2 linked regions of the Homo sapiens genome follow. The protein of the gene in region 1 purifies or fractionates together with the protein of each later gene. This does not show direct contact. Each region holds a gene or a part of one and is shown on either strand. Other genes may lie near its edges. The genes, in order: ZNF253 and AKR1B1.

Region 1 (4,260 bases):
ATATAACCTAAATTCCTTAAGAAAAGAGAGAATATCAAAATATTTTTTAAGCTTTTTATTTATTTATTATACTTTAAAGTTCTGGGGTACATGTGCATAACGTGCAGGTTTGTTACATAGGTATACACGTGCCATGAAGGTTTGCTGCACCCATCAAACCATTATTTACACTAGGTATTTCTCCTAATGCTGTCCCTCCCCTAGCCCCCCAATCCCCTTTTTTGGAACTTTTTAAAGAGTTTTTGAACTCTTGGACATCAGAATTTTACACACTGTATGCACTTGAAAAAATGCTTATGGGGGAAAAAGCAGAAGAGAGAAAGATATTATAAAAAAAAGTTCATGAGTGCACAAGACCAATGCAACAGAATAGAGAGCCCAGAAATAATGCCACCCTCCTACCATCATCAGATTTTTGGCAAAGCTGATAAGAGAAATGTGGAAAGAATTCTCCATTTAATAAATGGTGCTGGAATAACTAGCTAGCACTATGTAGAAGACTGAAAGTGGACCCCTTCATTACACAATATACAAAATCAACTCAAGATTAATTAAAGACTTAAATGAAAAACTTAAAATTGTAAGAAACCTTGCAAGATAACCTAGGAAGTACCATTCTAGACACAGAAACTGGCAAACACTTCATGATGAAGCTACCAAAAGCAATTGCAACAAAAGCAAAAATTGACAATGGGACCTATTTGAACTAAAGAGCTTCTTCACAGCAAAGGAAACTATTAACAGAGTAAACAGACAACCTACAGAATAAAAAAAATTTGCAAACTTTGCCTCTGACAAAAGTCTAATATCCAGAATTTATTAAGAACTTAAACAAGTTTACAAGAAAAAAAAAATCTCATTAAAAAATAGGCCAAAAAAACATGAATAGATGCTTTTCAAAAGAACATATACATGTGGCTAGCAAGCATATGAAAAAAAAAAAGCTCATCACTAATCATTAGAGAAATTAAGAGAAACCACAATGAGATACCACATCACACCAGTCAGAATGGCTATTTTTAAAAAGTCAAAAAATAACAGATGCTGGCAAGGTTGCAGAGAAAAGGGAATGCTTATACTCTACCTCATAATTGGGTATATACCCAAAGAAATATAAATTATTGTATTATAAAGATACATTCATATGTATGTTCATTGCAGCACTATTCACAATAGCAAAGACATGGACAGGCCCTATCAGTGGTAGACTGGATAAAGAAAACACGGTATGGTCAGATGCGGTGGCTCATGCCTGTAATCCCAGCACTCTGGGAGGCTGAGGCAGGTGGATTGCCTGAGCTTAGAAGTTTAAGACCAACCTGGGCAACATTGCAAAATCCTGTCTCCACAGAAAATACAAAGAGAAAAATTGGCCAGGCGTGGTAACACCAGCGTGTAGATCAAGCTACGTGAAAGGATGAGGTAGGAGAGAATTGCTTGAGCCAGGGAGGTTGAGGCTAAATAAGGCTGCATCACTCCACAGCACTCTAGCCTGGGCAATAAGTGACACTCTGTCTCCAAAAATAAAATAAAATAAAAGATTTAGTAAAAACAAAATATGGTACATAAATATCATGGAATACTCTCTGGCCATTTAAAAATAAATGATCATGTCCTTTGCAATAACATCAATAAAGCTGTAGACCATTATTTCAGAAAACTAATGCAGAAACAGAAAACCAGACATTCGCCATCACACCCAGCTAATTTTTGTACTTTTAGTAGAGATGGGGTTTCCCCATTTTGGCCAGGCTGGTCTTCAACTCCTGACCTCAAGTGATCCATCCACCTCGACCTCCTGAAGTGTTGTTATTACAGGCGTGAGCCACCGCGCCCGGCCCCATAAATTTTTAATAGGAGAAAAGGGAAACTGTGAACCCTGACAGATATAATAGATTCCTCTTCAAGGGCCTAACTTTCTTGTTCCTTGTTCTTAGGACCAACTTTTTTGTACCTCTTTGTACCTAGACACCCGCTCCGTAAACAACCCAAACCGCCTGTTCCAATCTGCGACCCGAACCCCTTCCTTATTTGGAAAGTAGCCAATCGGGTCAGCCTAGATTGTGAGGTCAGACCCCGGCCAATGGGGGAAGGACACAGAGGCAATAACGGCGTTTAGGGTTAAAAACCCCTTTCAAACTGGGAGGCCGAGGCGGGCGGATCAACTGAGTTCGGGAGTTCAAAACCAGCCTGACCAACATGGTGAAACGGCATGTCTACTAAAAATACAAAATCAGCCGGGTGTGGTGACGCATGCCTGTAACCCCAGCTACTCGGGAGGCTGAGGCAGGAGAATCACTTGAACCCGGGAGACGGAGGTTGCAGTGAGCCGAGATCGCGCCATTGTACTTTAGCCTGGGCCACAAGAGCAAAACTCCGCCTCAAAAAAAAAAAAAACCTTCCTTCCTTTCTTCTGTGTGCTCTTGCGATCAGGTCGGACGCGAGCAGCACTCTTCTTCAGAAGTAAATATGCCTTCCTGTGAAATTTTCTAAGTGCTGGGTAGTTTTTTGTTTTGTGTTGTTTTGCGGCACCAAGCGCTTGTTTCTAACAACCTCACGGACCAAAGCTCTTCCCATTCATGAACCCGCAGGGAACCGAGTCAGGATTCTCCCCTGACGACCCTCCCGTGGTCCTTGCATGATCTGGGAGAGACGCGGTGCTGCGGGTGCAGAGCTGCTGAAAGAGGGCTCCAGGCCAGGGCACAATCACTGTGCCGGGCCCCGGATGTCACCGCAGCCGCCATCTTATGGCTGAAGGGGACTGAGGCCGAGCTGGGCAGGGAGAACTCCGGCGGCAGATTGTGGAGCTGACTGTGAGGAAGCAGAGTCCCGCCAGAGCCACTTCCCACCGTTCCAAACAGCCTCTCCCCTCTCTCGGGACGTTGGACCCGGCACTCACCATTTCTAGGCTTCCAGGGGTCCCGGGGTTTAGCTGTGGCTCTCCCAATACTTGCAGGTCACACGGCCACAGAGGACGGGCCTCTATAAGCACAGGACACAGAACACTGAGGATAAACCTGGAGCTCCCGCTGCAGCGAGAAACAAAGGCCCCCAGAAACCATGTGGTTCGCTCCAGCTGCGTGCCTGATTGGACGGTTTCCGGCCCAGCGTCCCTCATTGGATAATGCCTAAGGCCCCGCCTCCCCAGCCGCTGAGTGACAGATGTGATCAGATACTGGGCTGAGTGAAGAAAGAGTGACAGCCTAGGCTGCAGCCTTTTCTTTCTTTCTTTCTTTCTTTCTTTCTTTCTTTCTTTCTTTCTTTCTTTCTTTCTTTCTTTCTTTCTTTCTTTCTTTCTTTCTTTCTTTCTTTCTTTCTTTCTTTCTTTCCTTTCTTTCTTTCTTTCTTTTTCTTTCTTTCTTTCTTTCTTTCTTTTCTTTCTTTTTTCCCCCCACCGAGACGGAGTTTCCCTCTTGTTGCCCAGGCTAGAGTGCAATGGCACGATGTTGGCTCACCGCAACCTGCACCTCCCGGGTTCAAGCGATTCTCCTACCTCAGCCTCCCATGTAGCTGGGATTACAGGCATGCCTCACCACGCCCGTCTAATTTTTTGTACTTTTAGTAGAGACAGGGTTTCTCCGTGTTGGTCAGGCTGGTCTCGAGCTCCCGATCTCAGGTGATCCGCCCGCCTCGGCCTCCCAAAGTGCTGGGATTACAAGCGTGAGCCACCGCGCCTAGCCTAGCTGGAGCCTTTTCAAACGGCTTCCTCCCTGAGCTGAGCATCCCATCCCAGAGCATGGGAAAATTCTATCTCATATTCTCTCTCTTTTTGAATGTATTCAAAAGGTGAACAGAAGTACTTTGCTGTCATATTAATAATACATGAAATGTTTGTTCAAGAGAAAGTCAACTTTTACTTTGGTAATAGTGTATTATCAATACTAAAGCTAATTTTAATAAGACCTTGTAAAGCCAGGTGCGGTGGCTCAGGCCTGTAATCCCAGTACTTTGGGAGGCTGAGGAGGGCAGATCACTGGGTCAGGAAATCGAGACCATCCTGGCTAACACGGTGAAACTCTGTCTCTACTAAAAATACAAAAAATTACCCGGGCGTGGTGGCATGCACCTGTGGTCCCAGCTACTCAGGAGGCTGAGGCAGGAGAATGGCTTGAACCCAGGAGGCAGAGGTTGCGGTGAGCCAAGATCGCACCACTGCACTCAAGCCTGGGTGACAAAGTGAGACTGCGTCTCCAAAAATGAATAAATACATAAATAAAACCTTGTAAATAAACAAAATTTGTCATTTTTGACCTCTCGAGA
Region 2 (3,810 bases), on another chromosome or scaffold:
CAAAGGCCCATGTGTCAATTCTCACTGTATGAGGATCTGCTTCAAGGGGTGGAGACACGGGAGATGGCCCCTCAGAGGTATCAGCAGAGAGAAATAAGTTAAAGGGAAACGAGGGGGAATGTGGATCATGGAAGATCACCAAATGGTTAGTGGCTGACCTGGCAAAATGACTGAATGGGTGTCCATGGCCAAGCCACCTGACCATCTGAGTAACCAGAACAGCTGTGGGGAGCCTGGCTACTGAAGAGGAGGAGGAAGTGCCTACATGGCATCGCGCTTCACTGGCACCCAGGTAGGCTGCATGGACACGTATCCCCCAACTTTCACTATCCTGCTATGATCACAGAGCTGAGCAATAAACATGTGCAGCGGGCTGTTGAATGAACAGAGCACATTCCTTTGGAGAGCTGGGGTAGAAACAAATGAAAAGAAAAACCCCCCAGGGCCATAGCAGCTGCAGACATCTGTGTTTTGACATCAGCTATTTTCAACAGGCTTTGGGGAAGAAAGGGGCCCAGTTGAACAAGCCCGTTACCAGAGCCTGTTAGCATGGAGCTCACTCTCCACCTCAGAGGGAGCAGCGAGGCAGGGTGGGGATGCTCATCGAAGGTGTGGGTTAAGAGGGGACGACCCTCAGAGGACCTGGCGACCTCTTATTTGACTGGAGGACCTCAGAAGCTGCTCTTGCAGCCTTCCCCACTCTGCACGGTTGAAGGAACAGAGAATCTCAATTTCCAGAAAGAATGCCTTACCACAGGCCCTGAGTGGTGTCCGGGCACAACCACCACTGATGACAGCAGGGAGAGCAGAGGACATCCCTACCCCAGAAAGAACAACTGGGGCCCAGGCAGGAAACTGCCCAGGACACACTGAACTTTCTCCAGGCTTGATGGCGCCTTGATTGATTTTTCTCTGAGGAGCTGCTGAGGGCACACTCCGCAGGCTCAGCCTAGCCACGCACTGCCTGCCATGCAACTGGTGCGGGGACAGGAACATGACTCAATCCAGGCCATAAGACTCAATCTTTGCACTTGAATTGGAACCCCTGAGTCCAGCCCCGGTTCTGCTGGGGTCACTGAGCTGGGAGAATGTCAGCCTGGAGCTGCTGCAGGAAAGTGGAGGGAGGCCAAATCCTGGTGACAACATTTACAACCCTGAATCTCAAACACCTAATGTCAGCGGCTGTTGTTTGGGGAAGTCAATCAATCCCCACCCCAAACACACTTTTTTTTTTCCTGCTTAAGATTAAAGTGGTTTTTCAGTTCTTTGGAACCAAAAGAGCACAGACTAGGATAATCAAGCTTGCGTTGGCACGACATGAAAAAAAAGTTGTGAGAGGTTTTTCTAGAAAAGTAAAAGACAGCAATGACTGCAAGAGGTCACGAAGAAGCTGCTGATCATTCCTTGGATATGTGCCATTCGCTGGAGACATGTGTGCTGGGAGGCTGATCAAAGGTGCTGGAGGGAAAAAGTCACCTCTGCAATGAAAATGTACGAGGATCCACAACCACATTCTATGTTAATGATCTCAATGTACAGCCCTTCCCTGAGAGAAACTAATTTGCCTTATGAAAAATGAAGCAGCCAACTTAAGCTATGGTGAGAAACCATTCACTAAACTTGGGAATGCCAACACAGGATGACAACATCTCCCCATTCCATGTCAACAAAGAGAAAATGCAAACAGAAGGAGGGGTCCAGATTGACTTCTAAAAAGAAGGTAAACTATGAAAACATGCTGGGTGGCATCCAGGCACAGCCATTACTGATGAGAGCTGTAGAAATGCAGTATATGAAACACTCCAATTACAGCTCAATCATACAAATCCTACATGTTTCTAACCCGATCCTGCCACTAATCTGTGTGCCCTTGATGGGCAAAACCATGCATGCCCATTCCTCCCAGAACTTCTGGCTCTGCAAAGCTCTACGTTGGGCAGTGACTTGAAATGCTCTGGGCTGATGGCACCAAGTGATGGCAGTGAGAAGCCTCTGCCCTTGAGTCCTCCACCACCTCCTTCAAGACAGCGGTCCTAGTTCCTCCTTTGATAACACCGGCTGGCTAATACCAACTCTGAGACACTGATAACTAAAATCAGTGTCTCCCTCCTACACAGATACAACACTCCTTTTAAAACCTAGTCTTCTTCCCTTTTGCTTACAGGTCTTGCTAGTTACTTCAAGATACCCCTCCCTCTCTTCCCTCTGCAAGTCAAAAAGCAAGCCACAGTGCTAAACAGGAAGACGGTCACAGGACAGTGTTTATGGTAAAACCAAAGTATCTCAGAGATTGGATATTTTGCAATATTAACCACGGGGATCTCTGGGAACAGGGAACTCTTCATTTTTGAAATGTTCTCTAGTTAGCAGGTGTTACTACTGAAATCAAAGGATAAGGGGAGGGGGCAAAGGAAACTTCACTTTGGGTAAAGAAACGGTCCTGAGTAGGAAGCATGAGAATGCTGTGCTGATAATCCTGGAGCAAGGAACAGGAAACGATCACTCAGAATCAGGTTTGGCAGCAGAAATTAACTTCCTCCTGTTCTGTTTTAATCAATTTGTCCCAAATTCTAAGACACTGCTGTTTCCAACTAGTTGAGATGTGCATGGACCAGGACTGACCCTGTAGGGGCAGGGCTTATTTAAATGTCTTTGGTCTTGAAGAGGAAGAGATGGGGGCTTTAGAGACACCAGGGAAGTGAACAGTAAATCTGGCTCCTGTGTTACCTCCATGCCCACAGCGCCTCAACCCTCACCCCATCCAAGGATCTTGGGCCATCACAAGCTTACCCCACTTGGGGAAGGTGGAGCAAGTCTTTCCTGGCACATTTTCTTTTACCTCATGCATTCTTAAAGTGGGTGCTATTGTCCCCAAAGAGACAAAAATTAGTTCTCTGGGGCAAAAAAACCCCCCTCAGCTTATAGAACAGCTTGTGACCCTCTAGAAGGCTACTGGCCATAAGCAGAAGTACAATATTATCTCTGATATTACAATTTTATTTTGGGGCAAATTAGGGGAAAAAAAAGTCTCACAAGGCTCCTAGGTGGGAGGGAGGTAGTGATCATGGCAAAAGATGGAGAAACATAGTTGTACCTTCAGCCCTAGGAGTATTCTGTGAGCATACATAGGAGACTTACAATGACTTTTACCTCCAACAATTTTTCAACTAGATTAAAAACACTATCAGTAACAAGACACTGGTGGGCACCAGACATCATCTCTGTTTTAAAAGCTTCCTGGCTTTACAATGCTGTGATGGGTTTTTGTTGTTGTTGTTGTTTCTGAGACCGAGTTTTTTTTTGCTCTTGTCGCCTAGGCTGGAGTGCAGTGGCACAATCTCAGATCATGGCAACCTCTACCTTCTGGATTCAAGTGATTCTCCTGCCTCAGCCTCCCAAGCAGCTGGGATTACAGGCACCCACCACCATGCCGGGCTAATTTTTGTATTTTTAGTAGAGAGGGGGTTTCACCATGTTGGCCAGCTGGTCTCGAACTCCTGACCTCAGGTGATCCACCCGCCTTGGCCTTCCAAAGTGCTGGGATTACAGGTGTAATTGTTTACTATCCAATGTAGAAGGCAAGACTGCCAGAAAGAAACCCTGTCCAAGCCACATGGGTCTGGGGCAGAGATGGTCTCCCCATCTGCCTGAAACCCTCACCTGAGAAGAGAATGGAGTTTGAGGACCTTCAAGAGTAGAGACTACCAGAGCCCTGCTGAGGGTCTGAAAGGTACAACACAGCCGCTACGGCATGGGAAGACCCAGGAGAATAAGGAACTGCACCTGCCTGCAGGGCCTCCTCCAGCTGTC

What was found.
Region 2: the proteins of ZNF253 (region 1) and AKR1B1 purify together in Homo sapiens (co-immunoprecipitation; one large-scale study listed by IntAct). This does not show direct contact.

What each region holds. Positions count from the first base shown.
Region 1 is NC_000019.10:19,864,639-19,868,898, reverse strand, and holds the start of ZNF253 (zinc finger protein 253), read right to left. Parts: upstream 3,018-4,260; 5' UTR 2,903-3,017; coding exon 2,900-2,902; intron 2,464-2,899; exon of another isoform or gene 1-2,463. UniProt on the Homo sapiens protein: May function as a transcription factor. Seem to have a transcriptional repression activity.
Region 2 is NC_000007.14:134,452,312-134,456,121, forward strand, and holds part of AKR1B1 (aldo-keto reductase family 1 member B1), read right to left. Parts: intron 1-3,810. UniProt on the Homo sapiens protein: Catalyzes the NADPH-dependent reduction of a wide variety of carbonyl-containing compounds to their corresponding alcohols.